Linked DNA regions of Homo sapiens: region 1 is linked to region 2. The links come from fine-mapping of genetic effects on gene expression. A gene starts in region 2. The other region holds a variant in brackets. All regions are shown on one strand. Distances are between the middles of the regions.

The links.
Region 1: its variant is fine-mapped to the expression of HNMT in whole blood (TOPMed, PIP 0.92).

The regions. Positions count from the first base shown.
Region 1 is chr2:137,989,057-138,004,867 of GRCh38, forward strand. It overlaps HNMT (histamine N-methyltransferase), which reads left to right. Exons shown (of 6, transcript NM_006895.3): 3 at 11,862-11,969; 4 at 13,008-13,138. Among named protein-coding and RNA genes, the nearest start is that of HNMT, 32 kb to the left of the region's middle. The variant G/A (reference allele first, on the strand shown) is at 7,748.
Region 2 is chr2:137,957,420-137,973,230 of GRCh38, forward strand. HNMT (histamine N-methyltransferase) reads left to right here and starts at 7,054. Exons shown (of 6, transcript NM_006895.3): 1 at 7,054-7,209; 2 at 12,746-12,798. The coding sequence starts at 7,073.

The DNA.
Region 1 (15,811 bases), 32 kb after region 2:
ACAATTTATAAACATCCATTGACATATAATTACTAGAAGCTCATAGTTTACTTTAGGGTTTCCTTTTGGTGTTGTATTCCACGGGTTTAAACAAATGTATAAAGACATGTATCCACCATTACAGTATTATACAGAGTAGTTTTACTGTCCCCGAAATCATCTATGCTCCACCCCTTCACATCCACCCCTCAGCCCCTGGCAACCACTGATCTTTTCACTGTTTCCATAATTTTGTCTTTTCCAGAATGTCATCTAGTTGAAATCACACAGCATGTAACCTTTTCATATTGGCTCCGTTCAGATAGTAATATGCATTTAAGTTTCTTCCATGTCTTTTCATGGCTTAGTAACTCATTTCTTTCTTGTACTGAATGATATTCTATTGTCTGCATGTACCACAGATTCTTTGTTTGTTTGTTCTTTTACTTATCAGTTTATATGCTGAAGGACACATCTTGGTTACTTCCAAGCTTTGGCAATTATGAATAAAGCTAATAAACATCTATGTGCAGATTTTTGTGTGACTGTAAGTTTTCAACTCCTTTGGGTAGAAACCAAGGAGCTTGATTACTGAATCATATGGTAAGGTTATGCTTCGTCTTTTAAGAAACTGCCAAACTGTATTCCAAAGTGGACCCAAAGTTACCTTTCCCACCAGCAGCGAATGAGAGTTCCTGTTGCTCCATATCTTTCCCAGCATTTGTTGTCATTAGTGCTCTGGATTTTGGCCCTTCCAGGTGTGTAATGGTATTTTGTTAATGTTTTAATTTGCATTTCATTGATGGCATATGATATGAAATATCTCTTTATATATTTATCTGTCATCTGTATATCTTCTTTGGTGAGGTGTTTAGGTCTTTGGCCCAATTGTTAATTGGGCTGGTTGTTTTCTTATCGTTGAGCTTTAAGAGTTCTTTGTATATTTTGGATAGTAATCCTTTATCAGATATGCTCTTTTCAATTATTTTCTTTCATGCTTGTCATCTCATTCTCTTGACATTTTCTTTTGTAGAGCAGAAGTTTTTAATTTTAATAAAGTTCAGCTTATTAATTACTTATTTCATAGATTATGCCTTTGGTTTCTATTTAAAAAGTCATCGCCGTACCCAAGGTCATCTAGGTTTTCCTCTGTGTTATATTTTAGGAATTTTACAGTTTTATGTTTTACACATAGTTCTATGATTCATTTTGAGTTAATTTTTGTGAAGGATGTAAGGTCCTTGTCTAGATTCATTTTTTTGCAGGTGGGTATCCAGTTGTTGCAGCACCATTTGTTGAAAAGACTATCTTTGCTCCATTGTATTGCCTTTGCTCCCTTGTCAAAGATCAATTCACTATATTTATGTGGGTCTATTTCTGGTCTCTCTATTCTGTTCCACTGATCTATCTGTCTATTCTTTTGCCATTACCAGGCTGTTTTGATTCATATAGCTTTATAGTAAGTCTTGAAGTCAGATAGTGTCGGTTCTCCAACTTTATTCTTCTCTTTCCATATTATATTGCAGATTATGGGTATAAATTATTTTTTAAAAATACATGTCTGCTATTTCTGAGGGATACTGAAAAGCAAATCATGTAGAATACAATGTCAAGGAATATTTTATTTTATGATTTTATATCTTATGGATATGTATATATACCCACACATATTTATATGTACATACATATGTATATGTTCTGAGGGAAAAACTCAAACTTTTTCCTCTGCTCTCACACCACAACAATCAACACAGAAGACTTCTGTGACCAAATGCATGAGTTTTTTTTTTCTCCCAACACCAAGCAGCAGATACTTCCAGGTATCTTCCAATTCAATTCAATTCTGATGCTGTCTCCCTGAAAATAATGTCAGATCCCACAGGTTGAGGGCTCAGTCCCACAAAACTGTCCCCTTTCAGACACCAGTTGCAAGTTTGGGCCTCCAGAATTTCTCAGTAGCCAGCTTCAAGTTGAGGTTTCCACAACCCCTCTTTGGGTTTGATTAATTTACTAAAGTGGTTCACAGAACTCAGGGAAACTGGCTTAATTTGCTGGTTTATGATAAAGGATGTTACAAAGGCTACAGATGAAGAGATGCATAGGGTAAGGTATGAGAGAAGGTACACAGAGCTTTCATGCTCTGCCTGGATATGCCACCTGCCAGGATCCTACACATGTTCACTATCTGGAAGCTCTTCAAATCCTGTTCTCTTGGGCCTTTTATGAAAACTTCATTGGATAGGCATGACTGAAGCATGGACAACCATGTAGTAATGTGATTGGATGAAAAGGTTATAATCTAATGCTGATAGGCTGAGTGGGAAAACCCAGTGAGGCCTATCTGTTCAGATTCTTCTTGATCTCTCTGTGCAGCATTAATTCCTCTAGGATATGGGACAGGACCTCCTCTGAAATGAGGTCTTATGACCCTCAATCACAAAGGTGGAAACACGTTATAGTCCTGCCTTGTATAGGTGAAAGGTTTTCTGAGGTCTGCTCCTGAGGCCAAAAGCACCATAAAATTATAATAAAAGACTATTAACAAGGGCTATGGGAATCATAAGCCAGGAGCCATAGATAAAAACATATAGATATATAAAATAATATCACACACATATATCGATCTATGCATATACACACATTTCTATAAAGATACATATATGTATGTAAATAGATAGAAGTAGATATTTATATAGCTAGATATAGAAGTAGATAATTGTATTATTTATTACATATATATCACAATAAGAAATACTATACTTATTATAAAAATAACACAGGGCGGGGCCAAGATGGCCGACTAGAAACAGCAGCGTTTGGAGGCCCCCATTGAAAAAAAACATAAGCTTGTGAATACTTCACCAGCAACCAAGGCATCCAGGTTCTCTCATCAGAACTGACTAGGAGGTTGGTGTGACCCACGGAGAGAAAGAAGAACAGTGTGGTGTGGCAGCCCACATGAGAGCCACATGGAGTGGGGGAGCCCCCTCCCCCCCAGCCAAGGGAGGCAATGGGTGAGCGTGCTTTTTCCACAGAATTGTGCAACCCACAGATTGGAAGATCCCACTCGTGAACCCACACCACCAGGGACTAGCGTCCCAACCCAGGAATGCACAGACTCTTAGCTTCTCGGTTGGAAGGAATCTGCTTAAGCCTACGGAACTCCTGGAGGGAGGGGTGACCAGAACTGGGTGTGGCTGCCTGCTGTCAAAGCTATTTGAGCTCCTTGTGGGAGGAGCAGCAGCCAGTACTGGGATTTGCATCTGCCTAACACAAAGCTCCCTGGGCAGGGGAAGGGAGGCATCCATCTCTATAGCCCCAGGCTGTGCTTTTCCTCTGTTGGAGACAGGGAGGCTGGACGGCTTGGTCCCAAGACTTGTCCCTCACAGTCCAACACATCTGCTTGCAGTCTGTGGCCAGAGTGCCTCTTCAGGCCTGACCCTGACCCATCCTTCCTCATTGGGTGAGGCTTCCCCCACCAACTCCAGTAACACCAGCCAGAGGCTCAGGGACAGAACCTGCATCTCCCTGGTCCTGTGTCCCTAGGGGGAGGGATGGCTGCAGTCTCTGTGGACCAGCAGACTTAGCCTTTCCTCCTGGTAGTTCTGAGGAATCCAGGCAGCCCAGACAAGTGGGTTCCCCGCAAGTGAGGCACTGTGTTAAACAGGTTCTGTTCCCCATGCCACCCAACTGGGTGAGACCCTCCAATAGAGGTTGTCAGACACCCTATACAGGAGTGCTCCTACTGGCATCAGGCTGGTGCCCCTCAAGGTCAGAAGTCCCAGAAGAAGAAGCAGGCACTCATCTTTGCTGTTCTCCAGCCTCTTTGAGTGACATCTCCAGGCACAGCAGCGAATCAGATAAATAGGTCCTGAAGTGAACCCCCAGCAAACTGCAGCAGCCCTACAGAAGAGGGACCTAACCATTGAAAGAAAAAAAACAAGCAGAAAGCAACAACAACAGCATCAACAACAAGAACAACAAAAAGTCTCCACAAAAACTCCATCCAAGGGTCAGCAGCCTCAAAGACCAAAACTAGACAAACTCACGAAGTCAAGAAAGAATCAATGAAACAATGCTGAAAACCCAAAAGGTCAGAGTGCCTTTTGTCCTCCAAATGATTTCAACCTTTCTCCGTCGGGGTAACAGAACTGGAGGGAGGATCAGATGGACAAATTGACAGAAGTAGGCTTCAAAATATGGGTAATAAAAACCTACACTGATCTAAAGGAGCATGTTCTAACCCAATGCAAAGAAGCTAAGAACCTTGATAAAAGGTTAGAGGAATTGCTAACTAGAATAACCAGTTTAGAGAGGAGCATAAACAACATGTTGGAGCTGAAAAACACAGCACGAGAACTTCCTGAAGCATACACAAGTATCAACTGATGAATCAACCAAGTGGAAGAAAGAATATCAGAGTCTGAAGACAAGACTAGAGAAAAAAGAATGAAAAGGAATGAACAAAGCTTCCAAGAAATATGAGACTTCATAAGAAGACCAAACCTACAATTGATTGGAGTCCAAGAAGGAGATGGAGAGAATGGAAACAAGCTGGAAAACACACTTCAGGATATTATCCAGGAGAACTTCCTCAATCTAGCAAGACTGCCAACATGCAAACTGAGGAAAAACAGAGAACATCATTAAGATACTCCACAAGAAATTCAACCCCAAGACACATAATCATCAGATTGAAGATTGAAATGAAAGAAAATTGTTAAGGGCAGCCAAAGAGAAAAGCCAGGTCACCTACAAAGGGAAACCCATCAGACTGACAGACCTCTCAGCAGAAACTCTACAAGCCAGAAAAGATTGGGGGCCAATATTCAACATTCTTAAAGAAAAAAAAAATTCAACCTAGAATTTCATATCCAGCCAAACTAGCTTCATAAGCAAAGGAGAAATAAAATCCTTTCCAGACAAGCAAATGCTGAGGAATTTTGTTGTTACCAGGCCTGCCCTGCAAGAGCTCCTGAAGGAAGCACTAAAGATGGAAAGGAAAAGCCAGGAGCAGCCACTGCAAAAACACATCAAAATATAAAGACCAATGACACTATGAAGAAACTGCAACAACTAGTGTACAAAATAAACAAATAGCAGCATGATGGTAGGGTCAAATTCACACATAATGATACTAACCTTAAATGTAAATGAGCTAAATGTCCCAATTAAAAGACACAGTCTGACAAATCGGATAAAGAGTCAAGACCCATCACCCATCAGTGTGCTGTATTCAGGAGACCCATCTCATGTGCAAAGACATGCATAGGCTCAAAATAAGGGGATGGAGGAAAATTTACCAAGCAAATGGAAAGCAAAAAATAAGCAGGGGTTGAAATCCTAGTCTCTGACAAAACAGACTTTAAACCAACAAAGATCAAAAAAGACAAGGGCATTACATAAGGTAAAGGGAACAATTCAACAAGAAGAGCTAACTATTCTAAATATATATGCACCCTATACAAGAGCACCCAGATTCATAAAACAAGTTTTTAGAGACCTACAAAGAGAGGTATACTCCCAGACAATAATAGTGGGAGATTTTAACACCCCACTGTCAGTATTAGATCAATGAGACAGAAAATTAATAAGGATATTCAAGACTTGAACTCAGATCTGGATCAAGTGGACCTAGTAGACATCTACAAACCTCTGTACCCCAAATCAACAGAATATACATTCTTCGCAATGCCACTTGGCACTTATTCTAAAATCTACGACATAATTGGAAATAAAACACTCCTTAGCAAATGCAAAAGAACTGAAATCATAACAGTCTCTCAGACCACAGTGCAATCAAATTAGAACTCAGGATTAAGAAACTCACTCAAAACCACATAATTACATGGAAATTGAACAACCTGCTCCTGAATGACTCCTGGGTAAATAATGAAATTAAAGCAGAGATCAAGAAGTTCTTTGAAACCAACAAGAACAAAGAGACAACATACCAGAATCTCTGGGACACAACTAAAGCAGTGTTAAGAGGGAAATTTATAGCACTTAAATGCCCCCATCAGAAAGCCTGAAGATCTCAAGTTGACACCCTAACATCACAATTAAAAGAGTTATAGAGGCAAGAACAAATGAATCCAAAAGCTGGCAGAAGACTAGAAATAACTATGATCAGAGAAGAATTAAAGGAGATAGAGACCCAAAAACCCTCCAAAAAAAAAATCAATGAGTCCAGGAGCTGGTTTTTTGAAAAAATTAACAAAATAGATTGCTAGCTAGACTAATAAAGGAGAAAAGAGAGAAGGATCAAATAGACACAATAAAAAATGATAAAGGGGATATCACCACTGACCCCACAGAAATACAAACTACCATCAGAGAATACTATAAACACCTCTACACAAATAAACTAGAAACTCTAGAAGAAATGGTTAAATTCCTGGGCACATACACCCTACTAAGACTAGACCAAGAAGAAGTTGAATCCCTGAATAGACCAATAACAAGTTCTGAAATTAAGGCAGTAATTAATAGCCTACCAACCAAAGAAAGCCCAGGACCAGATGGATTCACAGCTGAGTCCTACCAGAAATACAAAGAGGAGCTGGTACCATTCCTTCAGATACTATTACAAATGATTGAAAAGGTGGGACTCTTCCCTAACTCATTTTATGAAGCCAGCATCTTCCTGATAACGAAATCAAGAAGAGACACAACAAAAAAAAGGAAACTTCAGGCCAGTATCTCTGATGAATATCGATGGGAAAATCCTCAATAAAATACTGGCAAACCAAATTCAGCAGCACATTAAAAAAAATTATCCACCACAATCAAGTCAGCTTCATCCCTGGGATGCAAGGCTGGTTCAACATACACAAATCAAAAAACATAATCTATCACATAAACAGACCGAAAGACAAAAACCACATTATTATCTCAATAGATGCAGAAAAGGCCTTTGATAAAATTAAACTACTCTTCTTGTTAAAAACTCTCAATAAACTAGATATTAATGGAACATATCTCAAAATAATGAAAGCTATGTATGACAAACTTACCCAACCAATATCATATTGAATAGGCAAAAGCTGGAAGCATTCCTGTTGAAAACCAGTACAAGACAAGGATGTCCTCTCTCACCACTCCTATTCAACATAGTATTGGAAGTTCTTGCCAGGGCAATCAAGCAATAGAAACAAATAAAAGGTATTCAAATAGGAAGAGAGGAAGTCAAATTGTCTCTGTTTGTAGACAACATGATTGTATATTTAGAAAACCCCATCATCTCAGCCTAAAAACTTCTTAAACTGATAAGCAACTTCAGCAAAGTCTTAGGATACAAAATCAATGTGCAAAAATCACAAGCATTCCTTTACACCAACAATAGACAAAAACAGAGCCAAATCATGAATAAACTCCAAATCACAGTTGCTACAAAGAGAATAAAATACCTAGGAATACAGCTAACAAGGGATGCAAAGGACCTCTTCAAGGAGATCTACAAAGCATTTTTCAAGGATATAAGAGAGGATGCAATCAAATGGAAAAACATTCCATCCTCATGGATAAGAAGAATCAATATTATGAAAATGACCATACTGCCCAAATTGATTTATAGATTCAATGCTATTCCCATCAAACTACCATCGACATTCTTCACAGAATTAGAAAAAGTTATTTTAAATTTCATATGTAATCAAAGAAGACCACATATAGCCAAGACAATCCTAAGCAAAAGGAGCAAAGCTGGAGGCATCATGCCACCTGACTTCAAACTATACTAAAAGTCTACAGTAACCAAAACAGCATG[G/A]TACTGGTACCAAAACAGATATATAGACCAATGGAACAGAACAGAGACCTCAGAAATAACACCACACACCTACAACCATCTGATCTTCAACAAACCTGACAAAAACAAGCAACGGGGAAAGGATCTCCTATTCAGTAAATGGTGCTGGGAAAACTGGCTAGCCATATGCAGAAAACTGAAACTCGACCCCTTCCTTACACCTTATAACAAAAATTAACCCAAGATGGATTAAAGACTTAAATGTAAAACCCAAAACCATAAAAACCCTAGAAGACAACCTAGGCAATACCATTCAGGACATAGGCATGGGCAAAGACTTCATGACAAAAATGCCAAAAGCAATTGCAACAAAAGCCAACATTTACAAATGGGATCTAATTAAACTAAAGAACTTCTGCACAGCAAAAGAAACTATCATCAGAGTGAACAGGCAACCTACAGAATGGGATAAAATTTCTGTGCTCTACCCATCTGACAAAGATCTAATATCCAGAATTTACAAGGAACTTAAATGAATTTATAAGAAAAAAAAAGCCACCCCATCAAAAACTGGACAAAAGATATGAACAGACACTTCTCAAAAGAAGACATTTATGTGGCCAACAAACATATGAAAAAAAGCTCAATATCGCTGATCATCAGAGAAATGCAAATCAAAACCACCATGAGATACCATCTCATGCCAGTCAGAATGGCAATTATTAAAACATCAGGAAACAATAGATGCTGGCAAAGCCGTGGAGAGATAGGAGCACTTTTACATTGTTGGTGGGAATGTCAATTAGTTCAACCATTGTGGAAGACAGTATGGAGATTCCTCAAGAATTTAGAACCAGAAATACCATTTGACCCAGCAATGGGATTGCTGGGTATATACCCAAAGGAATATAAATCATTCTACTATAAAGACACATGCATATGTATGCTCACTGCAGCACTATTTACAATAGCAAAGTCATGGAACCAACCCAAATGCCCATCGGTGATAGACTGGATAAAGAAAATGTGCATATACACCATGTTATACTGTAAAGCCATAAAAAAGAATGAGTTCATGTCCTTCACAGGGACATGGATGATGCTGGGAGCCATCATCCTCAGCAAACTAACAGGAACAGAGAACCAAATACCGCATGTTCTCATTCATAAGTGGCAGTTGAACGATGAGAGCACATGGACACAGAGCGGGGAGCAACAGACACCAGGGCCTGTTGGGGGTTGGGGTTGAGGGGAGGGAACACAGAAGACAGGTCAATAGGTGCAGCAAACCACCATGGTGCATGTATACCTATGTAACAAACCTGTACATTCTGCATATATATTCCATTCTTTCTCAGAAGAAATAAAAAAAAGCACAGAATGTAATCGCCTATGAGCACAGTGGTATTATTTATTGTCCAATGTAGGGTACTTTAGAGAATTAGTTGGAAAGAGTAGGTAAAATAATTAAAATTATTATAATTTTTGAAATTTGTATGCATTGAACAAATTTCTCATATTAGTAAATTTATGAAATGTTCTTTTTTAAAAACTACTTCCAAAACTAAAATTCTGCTAATGATATTTTATTAAAAATGAACAAGTTAGGACCAAAAAACGAAAGCAGATGGACACTAAGTCAACAGGTATAAAATGGAAATGTCCCTGACAAACAAGTATGGTCACCCTACTTATGAGGTCAGAAATAGATTTTACGTTCTAATTGACTCTTAAGGAAATAGTTGCATTATCACCTCTTCTTAAACTTAATTTATTTTTGTCAGGAATCCAGCACACATGAGCTTATACTCTAGAGGCTGTTATGCAAACCAATGGTTTCCATATGTCAATTGTGATTCTAGCATTGTGTCCTCTATCAGTGCCCCAGGGAGAGGGACTGCCTGGCTCTGAACATGTCCCAGACTGTGCTAGATATATTTTGCCAACCAGGCCAACCTGAAATGTCAAGGTCCATCTTTGGAGGAGAGCTCATCAAGCCCTGAGGGGATATAATTGCATTTCAGTTATCTTTTTCAAAATGTCGAATTTGAGATCCTCATAATTGATAATTTTTCATTTAAAATGTATGGCTAGGTTAATATGAGGCAAGAACAGAAAATTTTGGTCTCTAGTCTTTTGGGGGCAAGCTGGAATCTATTTCCCATTAGCCCACAGCTATTCTTACCAGCCTTTTGTCTTAGTTGTCTTTTTTTCCCTTCAGAATAGTTGCTGAACAGAAGAATAAAAGGCTTTTCATGTCTTTTTAGCATTTGTGATCTTTCTACTTCTTAGTTGAATGAGTTAGAAGAATAAACATTGTAGATTTAGACAAATGTGACTTAAACTTCAGGTATATCAATATCCCTTGAATGTCAACATACTCAAATCACCTAATCCAGTTGGGAATATTAATAATATCATGGAACTTGCTGTCAGGATTAATGAGATGTTCCAGGTAAAAAGCCTAGCACAGTGTTTGGCAAATAGTAGGTGGCCAATAATAAATGGCAGCTATAGTCATCAGTGAAGAAATACATGATTTCAAGTAGGTAGGGCTGGCTGTGAAGAAAATTGTCACATAAGTGACTTCATACTCTATTTCAGCTTCCTTCCCACTCTCCCTCCTTCCCTCCACACACACCATGTACGCCATCTCCTATTGTCAGTACTTGGGACTCTCATATGCACCTGGACCACTGTCTTTTCCCAGTCTAGCATCTTCTGTTCCTGGTTTATCTTCCTCATCTCTTTCCTTCCAGACCTCCCAGTCTTATGACCTCTGCTTTTGCTTCCTGCTATGTGCAGCCTTGGAAAGTTTCTGCTAATGTCATTTATGCCAAATGTTAAAGACTAACATCATTTTCCTATGCTAATCTTGCCAGGAGGTATTTCCATTTTAGTGAAGGTCAACATCATAACCTAACTGAATAAAAGTGCAAAACATAAGTTGGAGGCATCAGCAAGAGGGAGAGAAGAGATATTTTCAAATAGATGTACTCAAGATAACAATAAAAATAATGAACAGCTAACATTTATTCACTGCCAACTTTATTTTGCACTGTGCATTATATGCATTACTTCATTTAACCCTCACAACTAATAAATTAAGTACTATTATTATTTTTATTTTTCTAATAAAAAAAAAAAAGAAGCTTGGAGAGGTAAAGCAAATTGCCCAAAGTCGTATACACCGAGTAAGTGAAGAAGACAGGTTTAAAACTCAAGTCCATCTGACTTATTGTCATCTCTCTTACACTAACCCTTACAGGCTGAATTTTCACCAGGGCAGGGATTCTTGCTTGGAAGTCCTGCCTTGCTCAATATTCTAAGAAATCTAGACTGCTAGTAGTTCCAAATATACTCTTTTATTTTCTGTGTGTGCATCTGTCATCTTGTCCCCTGTACCTGCAATCCCTCACTTCCCCACAGTTTCTGGGCTAACTCCCACTTACCCTGGGAGTGACAGAGTTCATGAGTGATCTTCCCCCATGAAGCATCATCACTCTGGCATCATCTCTCGTCCTCTCCCCATATGTTCTCTTCCCTCTTCCTACCTTGATTCAACTGAGCCAGGGCTATTTCTGTGTCTGTGAACAGGTAATAGTGTTTATGAGGGCAGATATCTGACATGTTTTTCTTCTTTATTTTACCTGACATATGCTTGTACCCTTTATTTAATCTGACATTTTTTTGTACTCTTCTGGCCTAGCCTACTCTGCCAGTTCTGAGGTGCATTTTTTTTTCGTATTTTAATACCTCTGATATTGTTATGCTCTCCAGTTGATAAAAATCTTAAAATTTTAATTGACAGTGGCTTTTTTCTAACTTGGTGAAACAAAAATAAGGGTTAATTTCCTTCTACAATCAACAGCATCTTTGATTTGATGAAATATAGTGATAGATGTTAAAGATCATGTAAACGAATGGATGGCACTCACAGCCCTCCTTGAGTCACATTACTATGCCTACTTAGAACCTAGCTGCCCTGCATCATGGCAGGGCAGCAGTTGAACATTATTCTTTATTTATGTTAGGCTTTCCTAGTAAAGGTAGGGCAGATAATAAATCAGCTAAAATTGTTTTTAATCATTTCTTGCTGGAATGATGTGACCTGTCCCATATGTTTATCTTCTAGGTGAAATTGATCTTCAAATTCTCTCCAAAGTTCAGGCTCAATACCCAGGAGTTTGTATCAACAATGAAGTTGTTGAGCCAAGTGCTGAACAAATTGCCAAATACAAAGGTACCTGTAACTCCTGGTCCTCTACACCAGATCCTATCCCAAAAGACTTAACTCAAATTGTTCCCTTGAATGATTAAAAATATAGTTACTGTGGTATGCTTTTCACAAGCTTATTGGGAGAAGAACTGAATTAGTTCTTGGCAGGCATGACTAAACATCTCAAAATGTGAACAGTGAATAATAAACTCCCTTTTCTATTAACACTTCATCCATTCCCCAGTTGTCATCAATGATTACCTTTTGATGTTTATGCTTAAGTACAGATTCATTCATTGATCCAGAATTATTTAAACCAACCTTAAAGAGCTTATGTTTAGTGGGTTACAGTAAAAGTTCACAAACTTTTCCTGGCAAAGGCCAAATAGTAAATATTTTAGATTCAGAAGGTCAATTCAGTCTCTGCCATAACTAATCAACCTGCCATGTGCCACAAAGGCAGCCAAAAAGAAAAATAGGTAAACTAACAAGCATGGGTGTGTTTGAATAAAACTTTATTTGTAAACACTAAAATTTGAATTTCATATCATTTTCACATATGAATTAGCATCCTTCTTTTGTTTTTTTAAATCATTCAAAAATATAATGACGTGAAACATGAATGGCAGTGACACAAAGTCAGGAAGTAGAACGATATATGTTTTTAGCTTGCGGTTCATACAAAAATAAGTAGCAGGCTAGATATAGTCCCTGGACTGTAGTTTGTCTTCTCCTGAATTATACAAACATATCTGTTTCCAATTCACTTTCCATTGATAAAATTCACCAGTTGATTCTTCATTAATACTAAGACAATATAACCTATTCTGCCCAGGGTTCTTGTAATTATTTCTTCCTGACTCTTTCTTTCACCTCTAATTTCATTAAATACTAGAAACCAAAAAAAGCAGTATGAACTCTCTGGTCTCCCAGACATAAGAAAGAAAAACGTTCTTTCTATCTGTTTGTATATAACATTGATTGCATTAAAATTCTAAATGGAAATGGTTTCCACATTTGCAATTAAAATTGATGGTGTGTCACCTCTTCTCTGTATTTTAGAGCTTGTAGCCAAGACATCGAACCTCGAGAACGTAAAGTTTGCTTGGCATAAGGAGACATCATCTGAATACCAAAGTAGAATGTTGGAGAAAAAGGAGCTTCAAAAGTGGGACTTTATTCATATGATTCAAGTAAGAAATATGTATTATAATATATACTCAGAAAGAAGACTTTTCAGAATATATATATAATGAATATCTACTATTCTAATTTTTAAAAGGTAAATGAAAATCTTCTGATTTCTAATTTTACAAGTGACCATGATCTGCCCAAATAAAAGGTAAAGATGTTTATTATACTAAGATTCTCTTTAACATTCCAAAAACCAGTTTTCTCTAATCAAAATACCTCTACAAGTTATCCATTTTTAAAAATGTTGGCTTAATTCTTATTTCTTTTTTGAGATGGGAGTCTCGCTGTGTCATCCAGGCTGGAGTGCGGTGGCATGATCTTAGCTCACTCTAGCCTCAAAATCCTGAGCTTAAGCAATTCTCCCACTGCAGCTTCCTGGTTAGTTGAGACCACAGGTGTGCACCACCACACCCAACTAATTTTTTATTTTTTGTAGAGATGGGGTCATACTATGTTGCCCAGGCTGGTCTTGAAATCCTGGGCTCAAGTGATCTTCCCTCTTCAACCTCCAAAAGTGTTGGAATTACAGGTGTGAGCCACTGCACCCAGTCTTTAATTTATTTTTATATCATTGGATGTTTATATAGAGATTTGAGAATGATAGCATCATAACATATTCTCTAGTGGCTCTAATGGTTTGGGTGGACCAATGTCCCAGAGTGTTTCTGTAGTGGACATATGGTCGAAGGGGCAGGTTAAATGATGCCTCAGTTCAATAAATTTTTACTTCCATTATCCAGATCCGACAAACTGACTCATACATGTTATAGAAAGGGAGTGACGCAAGAACAAAAAACCAAACACCGCATATTCTCACTCATAGGTGGGAATTGAACAATGAGAACACATGGACACAGGAAAGGGAACATCACACTCTGGGGTCTGTTGTGGGGTGGGGGGAGGGGGGAGGGATAGCATCGGGAGATATACCTAATGCTAGATGACGAGTTAGTGGGTGCAGCGCACCAGCATGGCACATGTATACATATGTAACTAACCTGCACATTGTGCACATGTACCCTAAAACTTAAAGTATAATAATAATAATAATAAAAGAAAGGGAGTGACTATTGAGTAGATAGCATGGGGCTGGATTTCCAGAGATAACTAACATTTCTGAATAGCATAAGGGATGTATGGGTTTTGGAAGTTGGTTACCAACGGGAAATGTACGTATTTTGGCAATACCACTTGATTAACGACAAAACACTATTTTTCTTCCTGGTCTACAATGATAATCACCCCAAAAGAATAAACTTACAAGAAGTCAAAGGAAGAAATACTCCAATTGTGTCATATACAGGCAATTCTATGTCTCTGCTTCTTTAGCTGATGAAATCTTTTGCCTGTCAGGTAGTACTTATCACTGTCCAGGATGCCAAGATATTTCTCTACCAGACTTGCTTTTGTTCCCACTTCCTCACATAACTATTTCATAACTCCCCTGTCTCCTTACCACTCCTGCAATCTCTCCCAGACCATTCGTTCTGAGCCAATGACCTCACTTCATAATGTATAGAGAAAATAGAAACTGCCAGATACTCATTTTTTACCCTCTAACTTTGCAAACATAACTGCATTTGTGCATCATCTCCTTCTTCCATCTTATTGCAAAAACCTCCTCTTATCAAAAACCACTCCCTCTGCTTAACCCTGGATCCCATTCTTTTCTCTGTTATAAATATTGTGATTTCAGGAATCAGCTTCTCTTTCCTATTTCTCTTAAAACTTCCATGTTTGTTCCTTCTTTCTTATAACAACTCTGTTTCCCTCTGAATCTCTATCCTGTTCCTCTCTCTCCATCTCTGTCTATGCCCCATTTTTCTGTGCAGCGTCTCTGCCTCTCTATTACTCATTATAGTCCTCACACTCTTATGATACTTTTACAACCTCACTGTCAATTCAGAAAATTTCACTGTCTTTGAGAAAAATTTAAGGTATCTTCTATGGCCCACTTCCACATTTCTAGCCAGGTCATATCGTAGATTGTTAGCCATCATATTGATTCACTATATTTGGGTACCTGCCTATGGTCCCTGTGGTGGAAAATGTGGAGTGTGGCCCCTAAGGCACCATGAGCCATGCACAGGTCAGGTCCATTTTATTTCATTCATTCATATGAAAGAGGCACAGCTAAAGTACTTTTCCTTTGTGCAATGAATTCTCTAAGGACAGGCTATATGGAATATTGAATTCTTGTCCAACAAAGATGAAGATGAGATATAAGAAGTGTCTATGGGGGTGGGGTCCAAAGATGCAAGCCATGGGGAAAAATTTCCCACGTCAATGCCTAAGTCCAAGTTCTGTGTTGGGTGGAAAGGCCTGTACTTCACTAGAGATTGATCCAGAATTATTAAAAATGGGTGTCCTGACCCCTAAACACCCTGTGACCAAGCAGATAACCTCATGCTTTATTTAGTCCAACTTCCTACAGAATCTGTCATCATCAGAGGCTGTCACATTTTCTGTGATTTTAAAAAAGCATCTGTGAGCATATGGAGAAGCTAGTGCAAAGGGCTTAATTGTAAAGTAACGTTCCATGAAATGGGGTCTGTTTTTATGGTGCCAGAACCATTTTCTCCCAGAAGAACTGCAATTCACGAATTATAGAATAGGCATAGGATTCATGTCCCCATGTGGAATGGTGACTAAGTGTCTCCAGCTATAAATGT
Region 2 (15,811 bases):
GACCTTTACCTTTGAGAGGAGATCTAGTACTTTCAAGGTGACAAAATTTTTTTTGATTATTAAAAGGAAAGTTAGTTCACAGACTCTTTCTTTTTTGTTGTGCCTTATTCTTTGTTCACATCCTTAAATATTTCAAAATAGCTTTATATCGCTAGAATTTCACTGATTACTCTTTATGTCTTTTAACAGGATTTGTCTGTCCATCTGCTCTCTTCCTTCTCAATTAATTATCCTCCAAGTATTTTGTCTCTATCACAAGATGGTTTGGTTTGTCCCTGATTGGGTATTTTGGGCCTTTCCTTTCTTAAGTTAATTAAAACAAAACTATTATAAACTCCACATTAATAAAGCATAATTGAAACAACTAAGTCATTAATAGTAACAAGATACATGGCATTATTACCAGCTGTGTGACCTTAAGCAACTCACATTGGTAAATTTGCCTAATAACACGATGTCAAGGGGCTGCTTACCCAGAGACTATCTTTAGGTTATCATTTATGATTTATTGACAATCTTTAGATACAGTGGCTCTACTAGCTATGAATATATATACAACTACTTTTAGTTTCACAAGCCCACAAAAATTTATCTTTTTAAAAGATGGAAGGCATTTAACTAGAACTTCAAGAAAACTTAAAGATCATCTCACCTCTCATCTTTCCACATTTTTTTATATATGGAAAAAAAAGTTTAGAGCAGATTTACCTAGTAAGAGGCTAGGCTTGTATAGCATTCCATTTTCTTGCTTCTTATTTCCATATTTATGAGAAACTTATCTAAGTCTCCTGTAGAATGTAAGATTCCTGATGCCTATTATATTTGGCTGAAATTACCAGTCTAATCAAGCTCTAAAATTTTATGTGCTATAATTCCAATCCTTCCTTTGAGACCACACTTGGGTCAATCTTCCTGATAACTTTCAAATAAGCTAGCAGATCAAGTAAATCAACCAATTTGTATAAAATACGTCTTCCTCCATTCTTGTCAAGTGAAAAGAAAATGTGATTCTTTGACCTATTTGACTAAGATATTTTAACAATATTGCTGTTAACATATACCTATGTAGTATGCTACTTAGATGATGGGACATAAGAATAAGAAGCTAGACCAATGAGCATGGTGTTCAGAAGACTAAAGACCAGGATGAATAGAAATATCTGAACAATGCTGTGTAGAAGAAAATGGGTCCTGAAGACTTTGCTACTGTTTTTTCTTCTCTTTTGTTCATTTGTTTATTTTTTGGTATACCACATACAGAAGAAGAAAAATGAAAAAGGGAAAGCCTTTGTTTTTTGACCTAGCACAGATGGTGTTCTATTAAAAGGTGATAGAAAGAACACAGAATTATTCCACTTTCTCTTTGCTTCTATCTTTCTCTTTGCTCCTATATTTTGCTCCAAAACAATCTTCATATTGGAAAGACACAGAGTGGTGAGAGGTAATATGGCATAATTTTTTAAATGAGCCTTGGAATCAAACATTAATTTGGACCGAGGCTCTTCTCTTAGGAGTTATGTGGTCTTAAACTATTTATCTGCTCTGAGTCTCACTTGATGGTGTCAATAGTTCCATCCCCCAGAGTGTTAGAAGTATATAAGGTGCTTTGACACAGTAACAGCTTAATAATTGATATATAATAGGGGATGGATGCCCAAAATAGGTAAGAAAATAAATAAGAATTTTAAATTAGGCAATAATTTAAGGTCTAAAAAAATTACATTTCAATGTGCTGAAAGAACTTATAAAAGTAATACTGATGTCACTGCTGGTAACTTTTGAAAAGTCATGGCAAATGATAGATGTGGTAGATTGTTGCTTCAATTTTCCAAAAAAAAGGGAAAAAAAGATTTTCAAGATTCAGTAATTCCAACCAGCCAGCTAGAAGGAAATTCCAGATGCAGTATGGATTATGAAACAGATATTCTATATGCAATTTTAAAAGGAAGTTGTGATTGCTGAAACCAGCACTTAATCAAACACAAAACATGCTGAAAGCAACAAGATTTCCTCTTTTTTTTTTCTTTTGAGGGGCTGCAAGACTAATCAGAGAAATGTCATCGCCATGATATATTTGCATCTGAAGAGGACATGTGACAAAGGTTTTATGAATCTTTAATATACTAATGTGCATTATGAATATCCAGAGGAAGCTACTGAATTCAGCACTTTTTAAATTATTTGACCATGGAACCCATTTTTTGCAGAGTAAAATCTGAAAGAAGTTGGGTTGGGCATAACTTTGGGAAACACTAGTATATGCCTGGAAAATAAATCTCCACTTTTTATGTAGCTTTGGGGATATTGTGTTTATTTTCAAACATCATCTTTTAAAGGAACCCAGACAAACTAGAATCTTTCCAAAGGAGGGGCCAGAGTAATGAATTATATAATGCTATATTGTAGAATAAATAGTTAGGAACTATAAAAGAGACACCTGGGGAGTAAGGTTGTCCTGACAGTTGATTTCAAGTTTCTTAATGGTTGTTATATGGAGAAAGAACTGGATTACTTCTGTTTAGTTTAAGCAACCAGAAATAGGAGTAGTATCTAAGAATTATAGGGCAGCAGGTTTTGGCTGAATAAAAAATTGTTGTGAGAGTGCTAGTCCTGGGGTTTGACAGACTATAATTCAACAGCAGTCCTGCAGTTTTTGGCTAGGCAGCTTAATCTCTCAGAAACTTGGTTTTCTCATTTGTAATAGGGGGAAGCTGATGGAGGTACCACAAAGAGTAAATCCTACATTAAATTTGAAAAGATCTGTACAATTCCTGGCACATAGTAAGTGCTCAATAAATGGAATTCTGGTGTTATTGGTAACATATAGAGCTACTCAATAATGAAAAGGATGGAGGACATCTGATAGCAGAGAACAACTCAATAGTGTAAATGTTCAAGCATATTCTTAATTATTTAAAAAAGAACTGAAAGTCTACTTCAGGCAACACATCACGGGAAGTAGCTGTGACTCAGTTCCTGTCTTTATGAGCTAAGTCACATGGGGACAAGCAGGGGAGTTAAGGCAAATATATTAAACAACAATAACACAAGGATGAATGCTTGCAAGAATCTCAGAAATTACGAGCGTGAGTGCTGATTATTTTGAGGGAAATATGGAAGGCTATATGAAAGTGGTAGCATATGAAGAATAGAAAATTTTTCAATGGATGCGGTAAGAAAGGAAGCAGCATGTTACAGAAGGGACTATTATGAGGAGATGCTGTAGGCAAAAAAGCACAGGAATGTATCCAGAGAAGCAGCACAGTTTGAAGGGGATATAAATGCAAACTAGAGGTAAATGAGACACAATTCTGGATAATTATTGGGGGGGCTACAGAATGGATCTTGTACTTGACGTGGGGGTCAGTGGGGAGACTAAATATTATGAGAGAAAGAAAAGAGTGTCTTTATCCAAACTTACTTAAAAAAAAACATGAAGTTGACAGTGGCAATAAAATTGGTTAGGATCTGTGTGATTCCTAAAGCAGGAAAGCCAATAAAAAAAAAAACCACACACACTATAGTATAACTGGCCAGCCAAATGCAGAAGGTTGAAACCGCATCCCTTCTTTACACCATATATAAAAATTAACTCAAGATGGATTAAAGACTTAAATATAAAACCCAAAACTATAGAAACTCTGGAAGACAACCTAGGCAATACCATGCAGGACATACACATGGACAAAGATTTCATGACGAAGACACCAAAAGTAATTGCAACAAAAGCAAAAGTTGACAAATGAGATCTAATTACACTAAGGATCTTCTCCACAGCAAAAGAAACTATGAACAGAATAAATAACCTACAGAATGGGAGAAAATTTTTGCAAACTATGCACCTGACAAAGATCTAGTATCCATTATCTATAAGGAACTTAAACAAATTTACAAGAATAAAAAAAAGACATGAAAAAGTGGACAGAGGACATGAATAGACACTTTTCAAAAGAAGACATACATGCAGCCAACAATCATATAAAAAAAAGCTCAACATCACTGATCATTAGAGAAATGCAAATAAAAACTACAATGAGATACCATCTCACACCAGTCACAGTGGCTATTATGAAAAAGTAAAAAAATAACAGGTGCTGGCAAGGTTGTGGAGAAAAGGAAACACTTATACCCTGTTGGTCAGAGTGTAAATTAGTTCAACCATTGTGGAAGACAGTGTGGCGATTCCTCAAAGACCAAAAGACAGAAATCCCATTCAACCCAGCAATCCCATTACTGGGTACATACCCAAAGGAATATAAATTGTTCTGTTATAAAGACACATGCATGTAAATGTTTATTGCAGCACTATATGCAATAACAAAGACATGTAATCAACCTAAATGCTCATCAGTGATAGTCTGGACAAAGAAAATGTGACATATGTATATCATGGAATACTATGCAGCCATAAAAAATATGGGATCATGTCTTTTGTGGGGACAAGGATGGAACTGGAGGCCATTATCCTTAGCAAACTAATGCAGGAACAGAAAACCAAATACTGCATATTATCACTTATAAGTGGGAGCTAAATAATGAGAAAATATGGAAACATTAGATGGGAACAACACACACTGGGGCCTATTGAAGGTGGAGTGTGGGAAGAGGGAGAGAATCAGGAAAAATAACTAATGGGTACTAGGCTTAATACCTGGGTGGTGACATAATCTGTAAAACAAGCCCCAATAAAACATGTTTACCTATGTAACAAATCTGTGCATGTACTCTTGAACTTAATTTTTTTTTAAAAAAAAGCACAATAAGTGAAAAATAAAGAGAATCTCAAGTAAGGTGGAAACAGTGGAGACGGAAAGGAAGTCCTCACTGGGATCCACATGAAGAACTGGCTCTGTTGGAGAATATTTGACAGCAGGCAAGGGAGGTGATGGTCTCAGAAGACCAAGTTTCAGTTAAGGGAGGCCTTAACAGCAGCTTTCCAAGAGAAAGTCATGTCAGGAGTATTCCTCAGCAGAATAGCAAACAGAGACTCTTACTAAACTTTTATTCAATAGATGAATACATTATTGGCCATTTTTGGTTTTGGTTAAAGTGAAACAAAAACAGATAGATGTTACACATGAATGAATGAATGATTTGGGTTGAGCTCTAAAGAGAAAAATGGAAGATGGTAATAGAAGCAAAAGTTTGTCAGAGCCCATCTGAGGAAAGGGAAGGCTGGTTGGATAGAGATGTGAGTAAAGAACCAGCAAAGACCTTATCTAAGGATGAGTGAAGGGCACAGGAGCTAAATCAGGGCTTGGCCAAATAAGGCCTGTGGCCAAACCCAACCCTACCAACCTGATTTGTGCAGCCCATGAGCTACCAATAACTTTTATGTTTTTATATGGTTAAAGTAAATTCAAAGAAGGATAATATTTCATGACATGTGAAAATGATATGAAACTCAAATTTCAATGTCCGTGAATAAAGTGACGACTGTTTTTGTCATTTTATATATATATATTTTTTTTGCAGAGGGACTGGCTTGCACTTTTTAAACATTAGTTATATTATTCTCAGTACAACCCTATAAGATAAAATTCATTCCCATTTTACTGATGAGCAAACTGCAGCTTATGTTTCAGCCAAAGTCAGACAGTTCATTAAGGGCAGAGTCATCCATGGCAATCTGCCTGTCCAGATATTACACTTTCCCCCGGGGTAAAAGCACTGGCTCTAAGAATAGTGAGAACAAAACATACTTATAAAAGGGAGTTGGGGGCTGGGAATGGTGGCTCACGCCTGTAATCCCAGCACTTTGGGAGGCCGAGGCGGGTGGATCACTTGAGATCAGGAGTTCGAGATCAGCCTGGCCAACATGGTGAAACCCTGTCTCTACTAAAAGTACAAAAATTAGCCAGGCGTGGTGGCGGGTGCCTGTAATCCCAGTTATTCGGGAGGCTAAGACAGGAGAATCACTTGAGTCCAGGAAGCGGAGGTTGCAGTGAGTGGAGATCGCACCATTGCACTCCAGGCTGGGCGACAGAGCGATACTCTGTCTCAAAAAAAAAAAGAGAGTTGGGAAGTGTTTTGAATGCTTAGAGGGCAGCTTGGGAACTCAATTAGAAGAAGGGACGGTTTAAGCAGACATATTTCTAAGAGACTTATATGAGTTAACTCATTTGATCCTCAGCACTCCTCCATGAGTTGGATGCTATTATTAACAACCCAATATTAGATAAAGGATGACCTTCTTAAAGACCTCTTCCCAGGAAAAAGACTGTGTGTGGGTACTCTGAAGCTTTGGCTCTTCTGGTGGGGACACCACTGGGTTTCCAAAGGCTCATCCAGCCAAGCGAAGTATCTATGACCTCGTCGTGTTCAGCGCGCTTAGGGAAGGATTCTATGGACTGCACTTTTACCCTGGTGTCCTGCATTCTTGCTCCAAGACTTCTCTTACCACTCTCATTCCCCTAAATGCAGCTTCTGACACCTTCTAGCTACGAGTTCTTGGGCTCCTCCTTCGTGACTTCCTTTTAAGATAATTTCTGAGTTACAACAAATCAGCATTTGAAGAAATGCAGCAGATAAGTTGAAAATTCAAGTGCTGAGGAATGTAAAGGCCCAAAACAATCCCGTAGAAAGCACAGAGGCAGATGACAGTCTTCCGTTAAAGATTTCACTGCTGTAGATTTCTGAGAGTGCTGTGTAGCTGTCCTCTTTATCCTGGTGTTTGCCACTTCGAACAGTCACTTTCCCACTTGGAACTTACTTGTGGCTTTGCTGACAAAACAGGAAGTGATTTGAATACAGTTTGTTTTTATGACCTTTCAACCTCAGGAATTTGAAAAGTTTTAGCAGTGGATTTACAGCCTTGCTTAATACTTCTATTTCTTACAAAACAACCGTATAGGGGTTAAAGTATCAGTGCAAAGTCCCGTTCAAATATTGACTCAGTAATGAGCTCTACAAGCCAGCCTTTGTGGCATGTTAAATTCAAAACAAGCTTAGCATTTTTTTTTTTTTTTTTGGATAGAAACTGGTGGGGGTGGGGAAAGAAAGAGGGAACTGGGAAGAGAAGGAGGGGAACTTAAACCTTGCTTCCTGCTCTGTCTTTCTCAGAAAACCAAATATGGCATCTTCCATGAGGAGCTTGTTTTCTGACCACGGGAAATATGTTGAATCTTTCCGGAGGTTTCTCAACCATTCCACGGAACACCAGTGCATGCAGGAATTCATGGACAAGAAGCTGCCAGGCATAATAGGAAGGTAACAAAAGGGACGTTGTTGTCAAAGGGACAAGCCTCAGACTGGCTGTGCGTCAGTGATAGATGGGTCTCGCTCAGCCTCGCAGGCTGGGCACAGGGATAAGGGCGAATTACTGATAGCAGCTCCCCGTCGTCCCCTCCTCGCTGCCCTGCCCTGCCTTTCTCCTGCAGTGCTTTGGTTCCACGTTTGCTTTGAACACTCAAAGGCTCCCATTTGTGTTGTATTTCCAGCTGCATAGAGATAAGCGTTAACCATTTGAAGGCACAAATCCATGTTCATTTGGGAAAAGATAAGATGCTAATCTTCGAACTCAGATTTTTCAGCCCTCCTCCAAATTTTACATCCCAAAAAAGTCCCAAAGGGAGTCTGGTATGCTTTTCATTAGAATCAAATATAAATAATTGCCAAAGTACGATTTGCCCTGAGGATTGAGTGCCTCAGTTCTCATAATATCCATTTAAATTAATTTTCCTTATCCATTGTTATAGTTATCACTCTCTTCCTCAAAATTGTCTTTTTCTTTCAGCTTAATATTAGCAATGTGTTCCTTAAAAAAAGAACCATTTTCCCATTATCAGTGAAACTCACTGGTTCCTATCCTTCTTGCAGAGTTCTTTTTTTTGGGTGATTAATGTGTTCAATTTGTGCCAGAGCTGATAAGCATTATGAGAGTAACAGATTCCACATGCTAAAGATAATCAAATCACCTATCTGGGGGTGATTTGCTGTAACTCATTCTACTTCAGGAAATAATAATGGAAAACTGGGAAGAAATGACTATGGATCCAATTTGCAAACAGCAAAGGAAAGTGGTATTTTATCTTTTGCTGAATTTCTCTATTGCAGGCCTGAAATTCTTTCACCAGGGCAGTACCTATGTCTGACCAGAGCAGGCATTATTAGATGTACATAAAATTTTATTTCCTTTTCTATTTAACATGATTCAGATTTTAAATGTTAGCTTTCAAAAAATAGGATATTATATATTAAAAATTAATATGTAATAGGATAAGGATGCAAACATCAAAGCAAATAGCAAATATAGAGAACTTCTTACCTAGGAACTAATTATAGTTAACCTCTTTGGGTTTCTTTGCTCATTTCTAAAGTTAAAGGTAATGAGTTAATTTCTCAATTCTTTTTCAGTACTAAAAGTATTTGCTCATGTCTGTAGCTTACCAGATCCTTGGTTTTCTTCAGCCATACACAGTTTGGTTTGAAGAGGTACCGTGGATGGAGATAACATAATCGATGATGAATGACCCCTTCCTTATCTTCAAAGTTTAAATCTAACTGGAAATATTATAAAATCTGTGAAAGACTGAAGAATTTTTAAGGGCACACTGTTTGTCTTATAACAGTAGTATATAGTTAGGAATGATCAGATTCAGTGTCATTTATTTTTTTCCTGAAGGTAATGTTTGAAATAAGATTTAGCTGAAGGACTTTTAAAATTGTTACTTAGAGTTGTCTATAAGTTATGAAGTACCAAAATGTGATTAGGATACTCTTTGTGTATGTTAGGGCAGGGTTTGTTGAGTTTGTGGCTCACTGTGCTAATTGAGTGTGGAGCGAGCCTATTAAATTTTTATTAAAGCAAGACATGCCATATTTTAAAACATCAAATGGTTCTAAAGTGTGTGGGGACTATAACAAACCCCACCCACTCCATTCTTGATTCCCACTCTCCGGAAGCAACCACTTTCAGCACTTTGAAATCTTTTAGTTATTTATGGAATTTTCTTTCATAATTCAAAATAACATGTTATTGTTCTATTTCTTCATTTCGCTGTATTAAAATAGCTAAGTAAGCATGCATATTTCCCACCCTATCATGTCACTATATGTAGTCAAAATTTTGGTTAAATAATTTGAGTGTTTATGTTATTTTGCCTATGTACATATTCTTAATAATTGAGCAATATATTCGACTATGCTTATATTTCCTTTTACGTACAACTTTTTGTTCTCCCTAGAGTTGACTATTGCCTTGATTTTGGTTTCTTTTCTTAGTTCTCCATGTACCTATTACTATTTTGATCCCCAAGCAGATATATTAATCTCCTCTCAATATATGCAAACATATCAAGGAATCTGTTTATTTTACCCCAAGGGAACAACTTTTCTGAAGCCCTCTGTTCTTTTTTTCAGTTTAGGAAGATCTGCTTTGGCCTGCTATACAACTATTAAGGAGGGAATTTATTTCACTTTCTGAGAATCATTTTCTTTCTCCATTATTTGATTCCCTGATTCTATATCTCATGCCTTTCTTTTCTTTGTTTCCTCGGTCCTTTGTTTCCTGAACAATTCTTTAAGAACTTTAAGAGTGAACGAGAGGTAAACTTTTTGAGACTTTGTATGTTTAAAAATCCCTTGGTTCTATGTTAATCGTTTGACTGGATATAGAACTCTATACTGAAAATGGTTTTGTATAATAGATCTAAAGGTACTTTTCCACTGTCTTTTAGATACCAGAATTGCTGTTAACAAATAAAATACTGGCCAGATGTGTTGGTTCACGCCTGTAATCCTAGCACTTCGGGAGGCTGAGGCGGGAGGATTACTTGAGCCTAGGAGTTTGAGACCAGCCTGGGCAACATAGCAAGATCCCATCTCTACAAAAAAGTGAAAAAGTTAGCTGAACAAGGCGGCATGCACATGCTACTCCAGACGCTGAAGTGGGAAGATCACTTAAGTCCGAGAGATCGAGGCTTCAGTGAGATATGGCTGAGACACTGCTCTCAGCCTGGATGACAGAGTGAGAACCTGTCTCAAACAAGAGAAAAAAATAAATCAAATGCTACTCAAAATTCTCATCCTTGGCATGTGGAATAACTTTTACATTGCTATGTGTTTTGTTTTCCCTATTTTGAACTTTTTAGAATCTTCTTACGTCTAGTATTCTGAAATTTTAAAATACTGAGCTGTGAAATGGTTCCTTTTTACCCATTTTATGGGTACTCCCTGGGCTATTTCAATTGAGATTCAGATCCTTCAGTTATGCGGAACTTTGGTAATCATTCTTCACCACTGTTTTCTTTTTCTGGAACTTTTATTCATCAAATACTTCCTGGATTGATTACCTAATTTTCTTATATTTCCAGTTTGCTACAACTTTCCTCTTTCAGCCCATGTATTAACTTTTTACTATTATATTTTTAATTTCCAAGAATGTTTTCTATAGCATTCTTTTCATCATTCCCAGATGTAATACCTTCTTATTCATTACAAAATGTTCCTCTGCTCTCTCTGCCTCTTTCCATCTCTGTTTCTTATGTTAGACAGCTCCCCAACCACCTAAAGAGCCTTGGTTTTCTATTCAATCAAATAATGAGGCACTAAAAGGTAGTCAGATTCTCTTTGTGTAAGTCAGGGCAGGGTTTGTTGAGTGAGTAGCTCACTGAATAATTGAGTGTGGACTCAGCTCTTTCCTGGGAGATCCTCAGATATAAAATCATGTTAACTTTATCACTGAGATGATTTGTTTCCCTATAGAGGAATTCTTCAATCCCCTATTTGAGGGTAGATGGTGGGGCAGGGCTTGGGGGCAGGAAAAATTATAGTAAATAACTATAAATAGTAAAGTTGGTTATTGTTGTTGCATATAAAACATTTAAATCCTTGGCTAGAAAATAGTAAGTTTTCAATAATTATTTGATGTCATTATAATATGTGAAATGGGATGAATAATAGTATCTAACTCATAGAGGAATTTCAAGGATTCAAAGAGTTAATTCACATAAATCACTTACATGTACCTAGAATCATAATAATTGCTAATATATGTGGAGTGCTTGTCATGTGCAGATACATTTCTAAGAGATTTGCATGAATTAAATCATTGAATCCTCACAACTTCTCCATGAATTAGAAACAGTTATTAATAATCCTACAAGAGAGATGATATTATTATCTTATTTCACAGAGATGTCAAATAACTTGCTCAAGGTAACATAACAGTAACCTGGGATTTCAACTTGGGTGCTCTGCTTCATAGCCTCCCTATGCTGTCATAGATGTAAGCATTTTAAAGAATGAACAAAAGGTGTAGATAGAAATGGATGTGTTAGGACTCAGGATTATGAGTTGGAGGATAATTAGAATTGAAGAAGGCAAATCATTTATAGGTGTTCTCGACCCTAGACTTTGCAAGATTCCTTTAGAACCTTACTTCAATTTTTGTTCCCATCCTGTGACTGAGCAGGCTTTTTGCACTGTAGACAAAACACAGTTTTGTTTGCCATCCCAAAGTCCAAAGAAACAAACACCATCCTTTTCCCTTCATGGTTCTCCTACAGCAGTCATCTCTTTTCCTTCTCTCTTTCACCCTGTTTCAACAGACTCTAGATCTGCTTCCTCATTTTTGAGCTCAGTTTTAATCCCATTGCCATCTGACTTCAGTCTTCAATCTTCTTTTACAACTGCCATTACTAAAGACACTCGTATTGCCAAATTCGATGGAGATTTTTCCTTTTTTAAGTAGTACACTCTGCTGCTTTTGCCATGACGACGGGCTTTCTCTGCCTCCAATTACTCTGGTACCTCTCTGTGCTTTATTTCTTTTCTTCTCTGTCTTCTTTGTATATTCTTCACAATCCAGTGATCTTTAGAAGTTGGTATTGCATCACCATCCACTACTACTATAACTCTGCAATATCTTTGGGTGATGGAATCTACTTTTCTAGCACTGACCATTACTTTATGATGATGATTCTCCAGAATACATCATTGACCCTGATTTCTCTCCTCCCAGCTTAAATCTTGCAAATCCAAATGTCTGCTGAATTCGTATTTATTTTTTTTAAAAGCCCTGACAAAACATAAGCTTGCTGCCAAACTGTATTTCTCAGCTTCCTTTTTGGCATCACCCTTTGCCCAGTCATCCAAGCCTGAAACAGGGAAGTCACTGTGCATTCATATTTTTTTCTGACCTCTTCACATCAATCTAACAGCAAGTCCTACTGGCTTATTTCCCAATCTGTCCACTCCACTCTATTTCTAGTACCTGAGTCATAATTCGGGCTTTATTATCTCACATTTCATTTTGAGAGCAAAGTGATATCTGTTTTTTTAATGCCTAGGATAGAATACACATAATGCATGTTTAATAAACACTTGTTCATTAAAAGGAAGGTTAAAAAAAGGGGGAGGAAAGAAGGCAAACATTATAGATAGTGGGAACCAGCTGAGCCTTTCCTTTATCTACGATGAGTGGCTTATTATATGACTAGACTCAAAACTCCACTTTTTCTGTTCTTGTTCTCCAAGCCATAACCAAACAAATGGCATTTTGTACCTCTGATATGTACATACTGCCATTTCCAAGTCTCCCAGTTAAAGATTGTTAATGAATAAAACCTATATTTTGAAATATACTCTAAAGATGGCAATATAACTGATATAATTGGGACATTTCATGTTGGCCTAGTTTTCATTCATTGTATTTTTAGTCTGTTCTCTTCAACTAGACTAGATAATCAGATTTCACAAAGCACCTAACACATTTTTCTAAAACTACATAATTTTTTTCTTTCAGGATTGGAGACACAAAATCAGAAATTAAGATTCTAAGCATAGGCGGAGGTGCAGGTATGAGTAATATATTTTTAAAGTTCATATTTCACTTTAACCATTATGCTGTGTGATGACAATATTGTTCATTTTTTAGGAAGACTTTTTTTTTTTGCTTTTGGAAGAGATCGGCTTATTAAAACTAGCAATATTACTTCAACTAACATTAATGCCCCCATAGATTTACAGGGTTTAGGACATTAGCCTTCATTACTATCTCTATTGTGAATAAGTGATGTGACTTGTTCTTTTGATAGATGAAAAATCAAATAGGATAACTTTAAGGATAACTCTTATCCAAAATGATTAAAATACTCACAGAAAAGGAAAATCTCATAATAAGCTTCTTAAGTTTGTGCCATTTAAAACCTTGTTCATGGACTGGTTACTGTTTTCAAACTGTTATTGGTCCATGTGAAGATCTGAAATGTGCACAGGAGGCTGGGCGCGGTGGCTCACGCCTGTAATCCCAGCACTTTGGGAGGCTGAGGGGGGCGGATCACGAGGTCAGGAGATCGAGACCATCCTGGCTAACGCGGTGAAACCCTGTCTCTATTAAAAATACAAAAAATTAGCCAAGCGTGGTGGCAGACGCCTGTAGTCCCAGCTACTCGGGAGGCTGAGGCAGGAGAATGGCGTGAATCCTGGAGGCGGAGCTTGCAGTGAGCCGAGATCGCGCCACTGCACTCCAGCCTGGGTGACAGAGCGAGACTACGTCTCAAAAAAAAAAAAAAAAAGAAAGAAAGAAAGAAAGAAAGAAAGAAAGAAAGAAAAAAGAAATGTGCACTGGAATATAAACTGATGCACAGCTTTTTTCATTGAGAAAGTCTCACCATGGGGAAAAATGTGCTCAGTGACAGAGTTAATTTACATTCTTGTGAACTCATTCTTTGAGTGGCATGGGCCTAATCTGTTCCCTTCCTCTTACTCAGTTCCAAAACTGAATGCTTAGAATTACCTCTAGCATTCAGATAACTCCTAAGCACCTTTTTTTTTTTGACGGATTCTCACTCTGTCGCCCAGGCTGAAATGTGCAGTGGTGCAATCTTGGCTCACTGCAACCTCCACCTCCCGGGTTCAAGCAATTCTCCTCCCTCAGCATCCTGAGTAGCTGGGATTACAGGCACCAACCACCGCACCTGGCTAATTTTTGTATTTTTAATAGAGACGGGGTTTCACCATCTTGTCCAGGCTGGTCTCAAACTCCTGACCTTGTGATCCACTCACCTTGGCCTCCCAAAGTGCTGGGATTACAGGCATGAGTCACATGCCCAGCCCTAAGCATACTTTTATAGGCATTTTATAGTGTCATTACTTTTAGATCCAGTGCTTTCATTCTAGGGGAAAATTTAAAGTCTGGAAAGGTAGATGGACACAGGTAACTCAGCCTCCAGTGAAATTTATGATCTTGGCTAAAACATCAGTAAAATGGGAACAATGAATTTTATCTCATAAGGTTGTAGTGAGAGTGATATAGGTAACATTTACAAAGTGCTTAGGACATTCTTATTGCTCCTGGAGAGTGAAGGCTATTCCCTTCTGCAAAAGTAAAATAAGTTTCATCTCAAGACTTTTCCTAATATCAACTCCTGAACAGTGTTTGCCTTATTTTTAAGTCATCTGGAAGTTTGGGTTAATGCATTAATATATAAAATATGTAGATATATTATTTATATATTTATCTTTAGTTATTTTCTTTTGTCTGAGTGATAGTTCAGTAATGGTTACAACTCGATATCAAGTGGACACTATTGTCACTTGTAACTTAATGCCAAGTGGTAATCCCTTGAACCTCTTAAGTATAAGTGTTCTAGTGCCCCATGAATGAGTTGAACTGTGGCTCATATTAACACAAAGATAACTAAGAGCTCTCTAATGAAATGAGATCACTGATTTTTTGTTTTTGTTTTTTGTTTGTTTTTTGAGATGGAGTCTCGCTCTGTTGCCCAGGCTAGAGTACAGTGGCATGATCTTGGCTCACTGCAACCTCTGCCTCCTGGGTTCAAGCAATTCTCCCTGCCTCAGTCTCCCGAGTAGCTGGGATTACAGGAAACTGCCACCACACCCGTCTAATTTTTGTATTTTTTAGTAGAGAAGGGTTTCACCATGTTGGCCAGGCTAGTCTCGAACTCCTTACCTCAGGTGATTTGTCTGCCTCGGCCTCCCAAAGTGCTGAGATTACAGGCATGAGCCACCATGCCCGACAGAGATCACTAATTGTTAATGTCATTATTTGTTAATTTTTCATGAAATACACTGTGATATAGTGTAATAAGAACTAATCATTAAAATCATTTTACTTTATTATCATCTTTCACCAAGAAAATAGAAACCAACAAAGACAGACAATGAAGGGAATTGTCATGAACAATACCATAGAGGGTATTTAAGCTAAAATACTTTATTATTGGTTATACTTTAAGTCCCCAAAATTATAATAGTTATGAATTGTCTAAAGAATGTCTTATTAATTCATTTAACCAAGACAGTTATTTCCTGTGTGTTTTGGATATGAGTTTCAGGCAACCAACAGGCAATGAGACTATCATTTGATAGTGTCACTTGTGCTTGGACAAGAAGAGAAGGCCTACAAGAAAAAGTAATTAAAAACAATCTCTATCATGGCCAAGTTAATTGACCTTTTAATATAAAGTTAATTGAATTTCTAATGCAAATTTATCCAGATGCTTATAAGCTATCTAGAGAAAGGAACGTTTGGCCTGCACAGTGAGTCCTTACATAAAGGTGCACATGGAAGCTAATACAGAGAACTTAACAAAATAAAGGGAACAACTCTTGGAGTTCTTCTGACTGAGCCCTAATAATGTATTAATAACAAACTCCACCTTGGGGAGAATGTGGGTGCCCTTTAAGGTCACTTTTCATAAGAAATCAATCAGAAATGTAAGAAAAACTCCAAGAAAAATTTAAGTTATATATACTTAGCTTTCACTACCCAACTAAGTTATATGAAATCAAAAGCAATGCATTTAAAATCCCTAGGTCTAGGTGTCTGTTGCTTGAAAGAACA